Regions from separate parts of the Homo sapiens genome. Here region 2 is linked to region 1. The links come from fine-mapping of genetic effects on gene expression. Tissue or cell type: whole blood. Region 1 holds a variant in brackets; the other region holds the start of a gene. All regions are shown on one strand. Distances are between the middles of the regions.

Region 1 (8,088 bases):
TGCACAAAGACCATATTACTTCCATTTTATATCAATTCTGGCAAGTAGAGGTGCCATAAAACCTATGAAGGACCCGAAAAGGGGACATTCTCCTCATTTTCTCCTTAGTCTTAGATTTGTTTCTCGCCTTTTTTTTTTCTCCTTAGAGGAGCTGAGCTGTAGCCTAGGGTTCTTGTGTGGTGGATTGATGTGTGGTGGATTGATGCGTGCTGCTTGCAGGCAGGACTCCACAGTGTCACCACTGAGTCGTTTCTGCCCTCTTAAGTGTCTCTCTCCAGAGGTCTGTGACCTCTGAGAGGGCTCAAAACGCTGGGTGATCAGCCCTCATGTGTGTTTCCTGGATGAGCCATTTTTTAAATTAATTGTTTTTGGGGATTAATCCCTAAAGGGATTTCCCTTTAGGGCCGCTGTACGTCTTGGGGGTCAACCCCTGGACACTCCCACAAAGCCCCCAGTCACCCAGGGGCACCTTTCAGCTGGGAAGAGCAAACACCCTTTCTCTTCAGAGCTGAAAAACTCAGTCTCTATGAAAGCAACAGTTCAGTTCCTCACACAAATGGACACAGATGAACCGAATCAAGATAAATTTTAGGAGAAAAAGCAATAGAGAATTCCCTTCAGAATGCATACCCAAACTACAATCAGGATCCTTAAACAACAACTTCCTAGCAAAAAACCAGCTCAGAAAAAATCAAGAACCATCAGCCCTTGAAGGGAGGTCCGGGGCTCAGGACGACTTAACAGTTCCACCGAAGGAGAAGCTCGAACTCAGTGGGGCTTCAATGGGCCCCTGCTGGTACCTTACCTCCAGTCTCGGGCAACTCCTTTGGGGTTCTGAGTCTTCTCTGAGGCCAACGTTGGGAGCCATATTACTGTTGCCAAAAAGAGTCAAACTCACAGTGAAACCCCATCTCTACTAAAAATATAAAAAATTAGCCAGGCATGGTGGCGGGCGCCTGTAGTCCCAGCTACTCGGGAGGCTGAGGCAGGAGAATGGCGTGAACCCGGAAGGCGGAGCTTGCAGTGAGCCGAGATGGCGCCACTGCACTCCAGCCTGGGCGACACAGCGAGACTCCGTCTCAAAAAAAAAAAGAGTGAAACTCTGTAAAATATTTTCAGAGATTTATTCTGAGCCAAATATGAGTGACCATGGCCCATGACACAGCCCTCAGGAGGTCCTGAGAACATGTGCCCAAGGTGGTCTGGGTAGAGCTTAATATTTTAGAGAGGCATGAGACATCAATCAAATACATTTAAGAAATACATTGGTTTCGTTCAGAAAGGCAGGACAACTCAAAGCGGGGCTGTAGGTAAATTTAAACATTTTCTGGCAGACAATTGGTTGAGTTTGTCTAAAGACCTGGGATTCACAGAAAGGAATGTTCAGGTTATGATAAAGGATTGAGGAGGCCAAGTTTTATTGTGCAGAGGAAGCTCTCAGCGGACTTCAGAGAGAGCAGGTTGTAAATCGTTTCTTATTGGACTTAAAAGGGTGCCTAGCTCTTAGTTGATTATTTCCTGGATCTGAGAAGGAAGGAAAACAAAGGGGAGAGGGGATTCTCTACAGAATGTGGATTTTTCCCAGAAGAGACTTTGTAGGGCAATTTCAAGGTATGGGAAGGAAACAGATTTTGGGGTAAAACATTTTTAGTTTCTTCCTTGTTATGCCAGAGTCAGATAGGAAAGTAAGTCACAATAGATATCCAGGGTTAAATAAAACCCATCTGATGAGAATTTATGGTTTTTAGGGCATGATTACCCAGACCCCTTAGAAAGGAATTTGGGCAAGATAAAAAAAATCATAGCTTAGTCCTCAGTCCCCTCTCTTGGCCAAAAAGCATTCCATAGAATGTATGTGTAGACCAACAAACACCAGCAGGTCCCAACGTGCTAGGAAACCTCATTCCTAGAGTTGTCTGATTTGGCTATCTGGCAGGGTCCCACAGGACTAGGAAGGCTTGTTTCTAGAGTCCTTTGATTTGATGGTAATAGTTTTAAATATTAGCGATTTGGATAATGGGGGGAGGACATGGTCTGACCTGATGTAATAGCCAATTGTTTAAGGGGTGAAATGGAGTCAGGCTTAGTCTAAAAAAAAATCCCGGATCAGATCTATTTTCTGAGCTATTATGATCCGGGTCTTTAACTGTGCCTTTGCCTTTTGCTGTATCTGGCATAATATTTACAAGAAATGCCTAATGCTAATATAATAACAAATATCATAAAGACAGTGAAGATTTGGGCACTCAGGGTTATAGGTAGAATCTGAGGGCAGTAAACAACCCAATCAGCCAGGAAAAACCCTGCATGCATCATCTATTCTTTGAATAGACTTACAGTGTGTTTGTACTCCTTAATAAGGGTTATTTGAACCCTGTGATAAATCTTATTTGAAAATTGTGATACCAACATTAAATTAGAATGTAATAAATTTAATCTCTCTTTCCGCCAATTTATCTCCATAGGTATAGCATCCTGAGGGAGGATATAAATTAAATGGGAGAAATGCCTGGTCCTTGGTGTTTAAATTGTTACAGACTTATTAAAAGTAGAAACCTATTTTTCCCACAACTTTTGTATTGCACCATATACTGGTATTTGGGAGAAAAGGTTTTGTCACAGGAGAAGTCATATAATTCTACAGTGTTTTTTCCTTGGCAGGACTCCCTATGGCTGAGGGCCTTAAGAGTCAAAAGACTTATAGTCAATTGTTTTAGGCCATATAGGAATGGATGTGGACAGGCATTCATTACTTCTTAAAATTATTAAGTAAAAAAAAAAGCCAACAATAAACCCAAAAAACAAAGTTACAAGACTGACTTGTTTTTTTTTTAATCTTATCTTTTATGGAGATGGAGTCTGGCTCTGTCGCCCAGGCCAGAGTGCAGTGGCGTGATCTCGGCTCACTGCAACCTCCGCCTCCCGGGTTCAAGCAATTCTCCTACCTCAGCCTCCTGAGTAGCTGGGACTACAGGCGCATGCCACCACGCCTGGCTGATTTTTTGTATTTTAGTAGAGATGGGGTTTCACCATGTTGCCCAGGGTGGTCTCGAACTCCTGACCTCAGGAAATCCGCCCACCCCAGCCTACCAAAGTGCTAGGATTACAGGAGTGAACCACCACGCCCGGCAGACTGACTTATTTTTAACTTTTATGTGGAGCTACTGTAAGCTTGGTTTCTGTTACAGACTTATAGCAATTAGCTATACAAAACATAAGCATCATTCTGAGAAATAATTTAAAATATGTATATATACATATCTGTATCTGTAGATATATTTATCTTCACGACTTATAATTTGGAGTATTATACCCAGGAGGCTTTGTTCCATGGTACTTTATAATGTTAGTAAATATTTTTCCTTAATTTTATAGTAAGCAGAAAATTTTTATGGTTGGGGTGGATGCAGAAGTAACACATAATAGTTTAGAAGGCAACCAATTTTGTTTTACCAGCTGTTTGGGCATTTTTAGTACCCCCTTCTTGATTTGGAGGGTTTAATCTTGACCTTTTTTTTTTCTTCGAGATAAGAGTCTCACTCTGTCGCCCAGGCTGGAGTGCAGTGGCACAATCTCAGTTCACTGCAACCTCCACCTCCTGGGTTCAAGCGATTCTCCTGCCTCAGCCTCCCAAGTAGCTGGGATTACAGGTATGTGCCACCACACCTGGCTAATTTTTGTATTTTTAGTAGAGACAGGGTTTCATTCTGTTAGCCAGGCTGGTCTCAAACTCCTGACCACAAGTGATCCACCCGCCTCGGTCTCCCAAAGTGGTGGGATTACAAGCGTGAGCCACCTCGACCAGCCAATCTTGACCTAATTTTATCCCTCAAAACCAGCCCTTATAACCTCATGTGCCCTGGCCCAAAGGGAGGCAGCTTGTATAGTTTTAGCAGCAGAGCATTAGCAGTGAAACAGATCCAGGGTCAGTGGGATACCAAATGAGGGAGATTCATGTTTCTAGTCTTCAGAATACCATGATTTCGGTTTCCTTGGAAGTAAAACAGGGAGAGATAAATAATGGCTTAATCTGCACTTAAAAAGTCAGGGCTTAGTTTTTGCCATCAGCCCCGATAAATGCTCCACACAAAAGGCTATGCAATGGAGGATTTACATGAGCAGATTTACATCTTCAGTTTTACAGTACTAGAAAGGGGAAAACATCCCCCAATTAGATGTAGAACCCATTTTCTTTTCTTTTCTTTCTTTTTTTTTTTTTTTTTGAGACACAGTCTCACTCTGTTGCCCAGGCTGGAGTGCAGTGGCACGATCTTGGCTCACTGCAACCTCTGCCACCCGAGTTCAAAGTGATTCTCCTGCCCCAGCCTCCCGAGTAGCTGGGATTACAGGCGCCTGCCACCGCACCCAGCTAATTTTTGTATTTTTAGTAGAGACACGGTTTCACCACCTTGGCCAGGCTAATCTTGAACTCTTGACCTTGTGATCCACCCGCCTCAGCCTCCCAAAGTGCTGGGATTACAGGTGTGAGCCACCATGCCCAGCCTTA[T/C]AGTACCCATTTTCATAAGACATTTAGGTAAAAGGGGTTACAACTACCTTAGATAAAGCTTGTTTAAACATCTTACATTTTACAGTTCTATTAACCTGTATGTTTTTATGTTCTGGTCCCAGGAAGCCTTTTTTTTTTTTTTTAATCCCCAGACCATTTTACCTTTTCTGGTACAAAGGGTTTGCGTTCCCAGCATGGGGTTGCATCTGTAAGACCTATGAGGGACAGGATATTTGGTAAGGCTTCTTAAACAGACCTATGATTCTGTAGGAGGGCACCCATGTAAAACGGGCCCTCTTAACCTCCAAATTTACCATGACCTGGGTAATAGACATATTTGGTGGGAGGATATCCCAGTTATCATAAAGCTAGTGCAACATGGCTTGTATATGAAACATACTAACTGCTTCATCTGGGGTACTTCACTTGGTATTTTAAAGGGAGAGTTGGGCAGTTCCCTTCTCAGGGCAAAGAGACCTTATAATGGCATTATCTGGCCCACTAGGCTGATTGCTTTTTCAAGAATAAACCCCCTTTGCGTTTGGATCATATATACTCAGTGACTGTTCAGTAATGAGTTCTGGGTCCTGCATTAATTCAAACAAGCTCTTAAATTCTGTAGCATTTAAAATTAAGAATTTTGTCCTTAAAGCAGTTATTTTCACAATCCACTAAAGTTTTTTTTAAAAAAAGAAGCTGAATGATACCAATCTACAAAATGGAACAATTCCTTTACATTACACCCTTTGGTTTTAAATAGTTACTTGGTTTTGCCCTTCCCCTATATTGACTATTTTCTTGGTAACCATAGGGCTCAGAGTTTTGTTGCCCTGGCTTGTTTTGTTTTCCTTTTTAAAAAAAAAAAATCCATTTAGTTTTATCTGTATAATTTTCTTCATTATAAAGCAACTCTTAGCTTATTATTATTATTATTATTATTATTATTATTTTTGAGACAGAGTCTTGCTCTGTCACCCAGGCTGGAGTGCAGTGGTGTGATCACAGCTCAATGCAACCTCCGCCTGCTGGGTTCAAGCAATTCTCCCATCTCAGCCTCCCGAGTAGCTGGGATTACAGGCACTCGCCACCATGCCCGGCTAATTTTTGTATTTTTTTTAGTAGGACAGGGTTTCACCATGTTGGCCAGGCTGGTCTCGAACTCCTGACCTTGTGATCCGCCTGCCTCAGTCTCCCAAAGTGCTGGGATTACAGGCGTGAGCCACTTAGTTTCTTTCTTTCTTTTTTTTTTTTTGCGATGAATTTTTTTTTTTGAGACGGAGTTTTGCTCTTGTTGCCCAGGCTGGAGTGCAATGGCACAATCCCGGCTCACTGCAACCTCCGCCTCCCGGGTTCAAGCAATTCTCCCGTCTCAGCCTCCCAAGTAGCTGGGATTACAGGTGCATACCACCATACCCAGCTAATTTTTTTTGTATTGTTAGTAGAGATGGGGTTTCATCACATTGGTCAGGCTGGTCTCGAACTCCTGACCTCAGGTGATCCATCCGCCCTGGCCTCCCAAAGTGCTGGGATTACAGGCGTGAGCCACTGTACCCAGCCCAAGCCACTTAGTTTCTTAACAAAAAAGAAACTTACATTTTTTTGAGAGTTGACATCCGTGTGTTTATTTATTTATTTATTTTCTTTGAGACGGAGTCTTGCTCTATCCTCCAGGGTGGAGTGCATTGGCACAATCTCAGCTCACTGCAACCTCTGCTTTCCGGGTTCAAGGGATTCTCCTGCCTCAGCCTCCCAAGTAGCTGTGATTACAGGAACACGCCACCACGCCCAGCTAATTTTGTATTTTTGTACAGATGGGGTTTTGCCACGTTGACCAGGCTGGTCCCGAACTCCTGAGTTCAGGTGATCCACCCGTCTCAGCCTCCCAAAGTGCTGGGATTATAGGCTTGTGCCACTGCACCCCAGCCAATAAAATTTTAATAAAAGCATATTTTATGTTTCTACTATCTTAACTTCTAGTAACCCAAATTTCCAGTGGGGGAAAAAAAAACTTGAGGGTTTAAACATGACTTTAAGATTTTTAAATCACTGGAGAGTTTTACCAAGGTTATGTAAATTAAAAGGCATCTGAGCTAGCTTTTACCAATGTGATAAGCACTTACATTTTTTAAATTACTTGATTAGAGCTCTTTCATGTAGTTTGGCAGTAAAGTATCACTTCTATATGACACATATAAAGATACAGATATAACAGGCATGCAGAATAAAAGCCATGTTCAAAAGATACTTTATTTGCCTGTTTTCAAAAACAATTTTTCTCCCTTACTTTAGATAATTAGTAAAAGTTACAGGACACAACAAAAGGTGAAGGAGAGAGCCATCTTTCAAGGCCTTTTCAAAAGAGAAAGAGGGCCGGGTGCAGTGACTCACACCTGATTTTATTGTCTCAACTCTTTTATCTTTTTCTTCTCCTTTTAAAAAAATTCCTTCACTGAAGCTGGGTGCGGTGGCTCACACCTGTAATCCTAGCACTTTGGGAGGCTGTGGTGGGAGGATCGCTTGAGCTCAGGAGTTCGAGACCAGCCTGGGCAACACAGTGAGACCTCCTCTCCACAAATGATTTTTAAAAATTAGCTGGGCATGTATGTTGGCACGTGCCTGTACTCCCATCTGCTTGACAGGCTCAGGTGGGAGGATGGCTTAAGTGCAGCAGGTTGAGGCTGTAGTGAACTGCGACCATGCCACTGCACTGTAGCGTGGGTAAGAGAACAAGACCCTGTCTCCCCCCTCAATTTTTAAAATTAATTTAAAAAATAAATAAATAAAATTACTTCAGTGAGAAGGAAGAAATCTCAACTCTTATTGCCTGGTTAGTCCTGGGCAAGTCCAATCCAGGGAGGGCCTAGCTGGTGTCTCAAATTAATAGGTCTATGATTAGCAGCCCCCCACGTATTGGTGGGATACTACAGGAAACACACACATAAACACCATCCTTAACTGTCTATGAAAACAAGAGTCTTTCGCTATCTTAGCCTATTTTTGAAAGTAAATATTTTGGGGGAATGTGAGGGTTATATCATCTGGTATTCTGAACCTAGAAAATTACCTCTGAGACTTTCCATGAAGAAGGCTTATTGGCTTAAGTCGCTAAGTAAATTGGCTTTATTTAAAAAACATTTTAGACCAGGCACAGTGGCTTATACCTGTAATCCCAGCACTTTGGGAGGCCGAGGCTGGTGGATCACCTGAGATTGGGAGCTTGAGAACAGCCTGACCAACATGGAAAAACCCCATGTCTACTAAAAATACAAAATTAGCTGGGCATGGTGGCACATGCCTGTAATCCCAGCTACTCAGGAGGCTGAGGTTGTGGTGAGCCGAGACTGAGCCATTGCACTCCAGCCTAGGCAACAAGAGCAAAACTCCATCTCAAAAAAAAAAAAAAAAAAAACTTTATTTATTTATTTAAATAAAACATTGATTGATTGATTGATTGGAGATGGAGTCTCACTCTGTCACCTAGGCTGGGGTGCGGTGGCACTATCTCAGCTCACTGCAACCTCTGCCTCCCAGTTCAAGCAATTCTCCTGCCTCAACCTCCCAGGTAGCTGGGATTGCAGGCA
Region 2 (8,104 bases), 57 kb after region 1:
TAAAGAGGAGCTTTGTTTACTGCAGTCTTTGTCTCTTTTAGGTAGTCTTCTCAATGCCACCACTCCCACACCCTGACTTCACCAGGGCTTGTAGTCTGGCAATGGTGGTTTAATTTATTTCTCTCTTGATGGCTAAAGCTGGACAACAGCTGTTCTAAGTTTGAGCTGTAAATCCTTTTCTTTGAAGGGGCAAGGAAAACAGGGCAAGCTTCTCTGTCTTCAATCTCTTCTTGTTATTCCCAAGCCCTTTAAGGGCTCTGTTTCCTACAAAGTTCATGTAAAACTAAAGGGAAACTTAAAATCCTTGAAGCCATGTTCTTCCCAATAGGCAGAATAAGATGAAGAAATCAATTCCAATTGATGACACTTCAAAAGTTTACTGTGGATGAAAACGAAGTTCCAAAGATGTCCCTGTTTCCAGACTAGTCAATGTCTCTTATCTTTCTTCAGTCTTCAGCTTTCCAGATGCAGAGTTCAACCAGGTTACTGTGTCTCACCTGGAGAAAAACAAGTATCTTTATCAGAGAATTCTTTCAGGGTATTTCTTAGACACCAAGGCTAAAATTCCACAGGCTGCTGTTAAAAAGTACTTTCTGAAAGAAAGACTGTTTTCCATTTCACTTACATGTATGTGGGTAAGAAGGGACTCTGAATTCAGAGGAAAACTGACTTGAGAATCCTTTGCTCTGTTCAGATTGGAAGCAGAACATGGCTTCACCTGGCCAAAGGACATCAAAGGACTAGCTCTTGTAAGGGGCCCATCTCACCTGACATAGATGGTAGTAACAAATACCAAGAATATCAAAATCACAAACAAGGGCACAGCAGTGAAGGGCAGTCCTAGAACAAAGATTTCTCTTTGGACAAGAAGAGTGTTTATTGTTATAGTGAAAAAAGAAAAAAATTAACCTCAAAATTAGGAAAGCAAGTCTCATTTTCTTTCTCTGTGTGTTTCTTTTGCTCCTCTATGCTTTTTAGTTACAATCCTGAAGAGGTAGAAGCTGAATTTTTGGTCTTTTGGAATCACCCATTAGAACACTGGGTAAGAAATGTTCTTGCAGAGAAAGCCATGATGCCCTCTATGAGAAACTGAATAAGCATAGCATAGGGTTGGTTCTTTTTTCCCAATTCAACAGTTTATTATTCCTATATTGGCCTAAGGTAACTGAGCCCCACCTGCCCCAATATGATTAAAAGTAACAATTATTTCTGTTGATGACAATAACAAACTAACACCAGCACCTTGGGATTTTATAAAATGCTTTTCATCTGGTGATCTAAAAGCACTTTACTCACATTATCTGGTGACGCAGTCCCTTATCCCACTCTTTAAAATTGAAGGCTACAGAATGCCCGAGGACATTCCACTGAATCACCTCAGGTTCAGAACTCAAGAGGTCACATGCCCCTCTGGTGACACAAACCCTTTCTACCTTTTCATCCACTACCTGCCCAGAGATGATAACTTGGAATCTGCAAGCCAAAAATTTTAAGTTAGAATTTTAAAAGAAAGTAGTTTTATTCCCTTCTCTACTAAAAATACAAAAATTAGCCGGGCGGGCGCCTGTAGTCCCAGCTACTCAGGAGGCTGAGGCAGGAGAATCACTTGAACCCAGGAGGCGGAGGTTGCAGTGAGCCACTGCACTACAGCCTGGGCAACAGAGCAAGACTCTGTCTCAAAAAAAAAAAAAAAAAAATCAGAAGATTCAGATAACAAAATATAAATGTGCCCTATAATGTACCACTTCCTCTCTCACCTATGGCATGGAAGGCAAAGGTGCCTTCCCTTACGATTCATTTCTCTCTTTAAAATTAGGGTTTCAGAGGGCCAAACAGCAGTATTAGAATACAGTGAGCGCCAAAAGATTCTAAGAAACTGTTATAGTCCTAGAAAACATAAATCCTCTCTAGTCCCTGATTTAATGATTATTTAACTCTCAGTTTCCTACAGGAATGGAAGCCTAACATTTGGAATGTAGGCCTCAGTAACTTTGTTAACAAAAGCAAACTCTTGATTTGTAGACAATATGTACTTTTTTTTTTTTTTTGAAACACAGTTTCCCTCTGTCACCCAGGCTGAAGTGCATGGTGTGATCTCAGCTCACTGCAACCTCCGAGTCCCGGATTCAAGCAATTCTCCTGTCTCAGCCTCCCGAGCAGCTGGGATTACAGGAGGGCACCACCACACCCAGCTAATTTTGTATTTTTAGTAGAGATGGGGTTTCACCATGTTGCCCAGGCTGGTCTCGAACTCCTGACCTCCAGGTGATCTGCCTCCTCACCCAAAGTGCTGGGATTACAGGTGTGAGACACTCTGCCCAGCCAATATGTACTATTAAAGCAAACTTTTCCCTCAAAATCCCAAAGACTAGAAAAGATGGAAAATTATACTACTTAAATTTTATCTAGAGTAGAATATCATTTAGATACTATATATTGTTTCATATATTTTCCACAGGAAAAAAGTCACATGGACTAATATTGACATAGTAATACAGAGTCATGAAAGGCCATGCAATTTTGGGAGTATAATACTGGGAACACAAAAGAGAACAGCATCTGAGATGCTTGGGGGCTACACAGTAGAAGGGAAATCAAAAACCTAACAATTTATTGGGTATAAATAAAGATGAACCAATTCTTAGCAAAAGAATGTGCTGCAGATACTAGGATGAAACCACAAGGGTGAGTATGGTTCATCAGAGTCAACAGTTTGAATCCATACTAGTATCAAAAAAGTATACAAGAATATGTATGCCAGCTGGGCACGGGGGCTCACGCCTGTAATCCCAGCACTTTGGGAGGCCGAGGCGGGCGGATCATTTGAGGTCAGGAGTTCGAGACCAGCCTGGCCAACATACCAAAACCCTGTCTCTACTAAAAATACAAACAAATGAGCAGGGCGTGATGGGGCATGCCTGAAATCCCAGCTACTAGGGAGGCTGAGACACGAGAATCGCTTGAACCCGGGAGGTGGAAGTTGCAGTGAGCCAAGATAGCAGCCACTGCACTCCAGCCTGGGCGACAGAGCCAGACTCCGTCTCAAAAATGAGAAAAAAAGTAATATGTATGCCATATTGAGGCACAGAGTAAACTATGAAATGGAAATATGTATATGTAAAACAAACAATACAGGATATGTGGTTTGAAGGCTTTAATAAGGTTTAATACAGGTATTTCCTTAAATAGGTGGATACCAGCAGTACCAAGGACAACACAACTATTTTTTGTTGAAATAAGCGGTGTAACAGTACAATAGAGTAAATCTAAATGCACAGTAATGGAGGTACCATGGAATAATTCACATGTCAAGGTATGGGAGAAAGAGCCAAGAAGTTTAATGTGGGTGTTATCATTATATACCGAGGTAGCAAAATACATGGCAATATAATTTTGTAAACATTAAGTTTATACAATGGGTGATAATGAGCATTCTGAAGATATTTGATCCAGGACAGAGGTATACTGAGATAGAAGGATGATATGCAAATGTTAGATCAACTTGGTCAAGATGGCATTAACCAGGAAGTGAAGAATCCAAGGCAAAAAATAGTCTAGCGTATAACGTATATGTGATCCTACAACTGCCTTCCTAACTTTTAGCAACTTTCTTACTTCTTATTTCAGTGTTTCATTTGGCCAAGTGGGTAAAACACTTTCCACCTGCCTGCCCCAAATATAGGTAAAATATTGACAAACGCATTCGGGCTCCACTTTAAAAAGTACAAAGTACTAAACGCATGGAGCACTCGGCTGGTGGCGGTAGGAGGAGGAAGCGGACGGGTGAGAGAGAACAGGTAACAGGATGAAGCTTGAGCCAAAATAAGTATCAGCAGAGTGGAGCGAGGGACTCGAACCGCAGAGCGGTAAAAGGGAAACAGCACCCGGTCCCCACCACGGGACTGGGGAAAGGAGAATCACCCGTTGGGGCAGGGCTGACGACCGCTGAAACCGAAAAGAAGGAATCCACGGCGGCCAGGCCCACCGAGGTTGAGAGAGCGGGCTGCGGGGACCGCAGAGCCCGAGGGCGCAGGGCCGGGGGCGGAAGGGGCGGCGGCTGGGCGCCAGGCACCGGGGACCGCGGTCTCGAGCTGAGTGGCCGTCTCTAACCCGTTCCGAGCCCTGGCGGTCGTGGATCCCCGGCCTCTACTCGTCGTCCGTTTCCAAGGCCCATGGGTCCCGCCGCGGTTGGAAGACCCGGCCCGGAGGAGAAATAGGGCCTTAATACCCTCCCCGTCTTCGGTCCCCCTTCCCTAGAGGTCACCCTCCCCTCCCACCTCGCTGGTACGGCACTTCCGGTTCCGCAGGGACCGGTGTCCTCCGCACTCACCCGCGAGCCCGGTGCCCGTCACCACCGCCGTCGTTGTCACCGCCGCCTCCCGGCAGTGCCGTCCTGCCTCAGAGAAGCAGCGCGCGGCCCCCGCACGCTCCACGCCCGCCCCGCTGCCGCGCGCTCCCGCCAGGCGTCGCTCGTCTCGGAGCCGGCGCGCGGCCGTTGCCCTCAGTGCCGGGTCTCGAACCCTTCCAGCGTTCCCATTGGCTCCCTAGTCCGGGCTCGCGCGACGTCTCGCGCGGCGCACGTTTGTCTCATTCATGCGGCTCGCGCTGCCGCGCCCAACCCCGCTCACTCTCCCATTCACCCATAGCCCCCACCCCGACTCCGATCTGGGGCGTGCGCGCGAACCCTGGCGACCGCGGCGACCTCGCGGCCTGATTGGCTGCAGCAACACAACGACGTACGCACGCGAGAAGACGAGAGCGCGCACGTAAGGCCGTGGGGTTGCGGGGACAACTAAGAGACAAGGATTGGCCTAATGCACAGGAGTCAGGAATGAGGAAATGGCCAGGCGAGTCTTCCCTTCTCCTGCGTCCTGTTGTATTCCCACTGAATCCAAGCAAAAACCCCCGGAAATAAGAAAAGAATTATGTGTGTGTACTAGAAGTACTCAAAAGCAAGCAGCTACCTTCTCGAATTCAGCAACCCCTCTCCTACTGAGGTGGTACAGTCCAGACAGGCTTCCAGCGCAGCCAATTACCGACGACTATCGCCGCTTCCTGCTTCAGCCCCTTCGCGGCGGATTGGCCAACCATTTGGCGACTAGGCCTCCCTCTTCTCCTTCCCATCTCCTTTTTTTTTTTTTTTTTTTTTTTTGATGGCAAAAACTTTATTTAAAACAATCTTGCTGGAGAAATCTTCAGTCCGGCGAGGTCGCTGGTCCGGGCAGAATCCAGGGCGATGGAATGGTCTGGGCTGTGTCTCCCACATGAAGGGGACGCCCGGACTTGAAGAGCCAATGTAGGGCGAGGCTCCTGCCAAGGGCCGGGGAGGGAGATGAAGAAGAGCAGGCGCCAGCCTTGGAGCCGTAGCGCTAACCGTGAGAGGGAAGCCTAAGGAGCGCGCGACCTGAGGCGGTGGCAGCACCCTCCCGCCCCCGGAGTGCGAGCCGGGAAGTGAACTCCCTGAATTCCATTAGTTTCCCACTGTCACACGTGGGATGGGCGCCCGCATCCCTCACCTCACCCAATCCTAGAATACAAAGCTAAAAGCAAAAGGTTCTCTAGAATAGCTACTGTCCCTGGCGAGCTAACTCTGCATAGGTCATAGTGCTACGCTTTGCCCTGATTAGCCCAAGACAGCTGTGAACCCAATAGCAATGCCCCATGTTCTCTCCCCATTCGGCTCGAGGCTATTTCTTTTTTCGAAAGCAACTCTAGCTATTACATAATGGTCCCTCAAAAAGGTGTTTCACAAGCCACTTCCCTGAAGCCGAGGCCCCTCACCTGTAAAATCCTGAGGACTGTCCTCGGGTTTGGTCTCAAATGTTGCTGGCTTTACTGTGGTTCTGACACTAGCATTAGGCAGTAAGGTAAAAGAGAACTACCTTCTGTTTTCTGGAATCTAGTTCCTTCTCTGACATGGCATATATTATAAGTTCTAGTTTATTCTTGTTAACAGCGTCAATCCAGCATTTATTGCAACACACTTGAGAGTTCTTTATAACGACTTTATATTTTTAAAACAGACCTGGCCTGGCGTGGTGGTTCACACCTGTAATCCCAGCACTTTGGGAGGCCAAGGCAGGCGGATCACGAGGTCAGGTGCTCAAGACCAGCCTGGCCAACATAGTGAAACTCCCTCTACTAAAAATACAAAAATTAGTCGGGCATGGTCGGGGGAGCCTGTAATCCCAGCTACTCGGGAGGCTGAGGCAGGAGAATTGCTTCAACCCGGGAGGCAGAGGTTGCCGTGAGCCGAGACCACACAACTTCACTCCAGCCTGGGCAACAGAGCAAGACTCCGTCTCAAAACAAAACAAAAACCTCTTTAGACCATATGAAAGGTAAATTATTGAAGATACAATATTGATATTTTATTTTTTACTTTTTGAGAGGGAGTCTCACACTGTCACCCAGGCTGGAGTGCAGTGGCGCGATCTCAGCTCATGGCAACCTCCTCCCGGGTTCAAGCAATTCTCATGCCTCAGCCTCCTGAGTAGCTGGGATCACAGGCATGTGCCACCACACCTGGCTAATATTTGTATTTTTAGTAGAGATGGGGTTTCACCATGATGGCCACATTGGTCTGGAACTCCTGACCTCAAATGATCCTCCCACCTCGGCCTCCCAAAGTGCTGAGATTACCGGTGTGAGCCACAGTGCCCGGCCTGATATTGGCATTTTCTACCTGTAAGCCATGTTTCTTTAAGATGAAGTCAGCTTTCATTTTTCTGTTGCAATATTTTTCTTGGATTTTTAGACTTCCTGATTTCCTCCACAAATTAGGCATTTTTATTTTCCTTTCAGCTGTCTAAGAACTTGTAAATAGTGGTGTCTCTTGGCTAGACAGTGCTAAATGGAAAAAAAAAATCAGTCTTCCACCATCCAACCAAACTAAACTCCCCTGGGATACTAACTTGGATTGCCAAGCTTTGTTAGGTGGATGAGCACTAACAGAGGTATAATCACTATCCCAAAGTTGAAAGACAGAGATTCCACTTGTCCAGTTTTCCTTGGGATCACTCAAGATATTTCTTGGAAAGAACGTTTAATAGAACATATGGTTTAAAGTGCCAGCTACTTCTGAAAAGTATCCAGAGTAAAATCTAGGCTAAAACAGTATGATATCCAGACCACCCAAACTTTAAATTACTTTAATATGTTAATGGCTTCTCTCATCTGCGCATCTTTGTTCATCTTGCTCACCACACTCTTCGGCTGCCTGGACTTAGACCCTCAGTAGCATGGGCACCTAAGCACACAGAAAGCTAGAACATGCATTTCCCAATTTTTGTGTTTTTAGGGTTTCACCATGTTGGCCAGGGTAGTCTCCAACTGCTGAGCTCAAGTGATCTGCCTGCCTCGACCTCCCAAAGTGCTGGGATTACAGGTCTGAGCCACTGCTCCTGGTCAACCTCTTTGTGTTTAAATACTGCTCTTTCCTCCTGTCCTTGTGAAATGTCTCTGTATGTGTTAAAGGGTAGTTCTTCCCTTTGTGCTGTGGATCCTATCTCCTTCGCTCCTGCATTTTTTCTGGTGCTGGGGGATGGAGTCTTGCTCTGTTACCCAGGCTGGAGTGCAGTGACGCGATCTCAGCTCACTGCAACCTCCGCCACCCATGGACAATTAATAGCTCATATTTAACACTGCCAAAAACCTCGAGTTTCCCTTGTCCCTCAGGGGGACAACTCCCTGAGTTTTCCCAATCTCATGTCTAACCTAGTGTGTCTTGTTAAAAAAAATCCAGGATGCATCCTTGATTCCATCGTTTTCCTCACCACTCCGTTATGAAGTCCTGCCTTCAGAATATCCTCTCACCAGCTCTACCTCTGCTGCCCTAGTATTTCATCCCCCACCATTTCTCACATTTGCACTTTTACAAAACTCTCCTAATTACTGTCCTTGCTTTTACACTTGCCCTATAACCCACTCTCCACAAAGCAGTGATCTTTTCAAAATGTAAAGTAATCAGCCAGGCTAATCCCAGCACTTTGGGAGTCCGAGGCGGATGGATCACTTGAGGTCAGGAGTTCGAGACCAGCCTGGCCAACATGGCAAAACCCCATCTCTACTAAAAATACAAAAATTCGCCAGGCATGGTGGTGCA

The links. PIP is the estimated chance that this variant, and not a neighbour inherited with it, causes the effect.
Region 2: it holds the start of ZDHHC5, and the variant in region 1 is fine-mapped to the expression of ZDHHC5 in whole blood (INTERVAL, PIP above 0.99).

What each region holds. Positions count from the first base shown.
Region 1 is chr11:57,721,174-57,729,261 of GRCh38, reverse strand. All of the region lies in intron 1 of TMX2 (thioredoxin related transmembrane protein 2), which reads right to left. All of the region lies in intron 1 of TMX2-CTNND1 (TMX2-CTNND1 readthrough (NMD candidate)), which reads right to left. Among named protein-coding and RNA genes, the nearest start is that of TMX2, 13 kb to the right of the region's middle. RefSeq lists enhancers at 3,274-3,773, 3,774-4,275. The variant T/C (reference allele first, on the strand shown) is at 4,508.
Region 2 is chr11:57,664,414-57,672,517 of GRCh38, reverse strand. ZDHHC5 (zDHHC palmitoyltransferase 5) reads right to left here and starts at 4,404. Exons shown (of 12, transcript NM_015457.3): 1 at 4,331-4,404; 2 at 1-497. RefSeq lists enhancers at 3,703-3,772, 3,326-3,963, 3,964-4,603, 4,773-5,352 and silencers at 3,883-4,082, 4,333-4,572.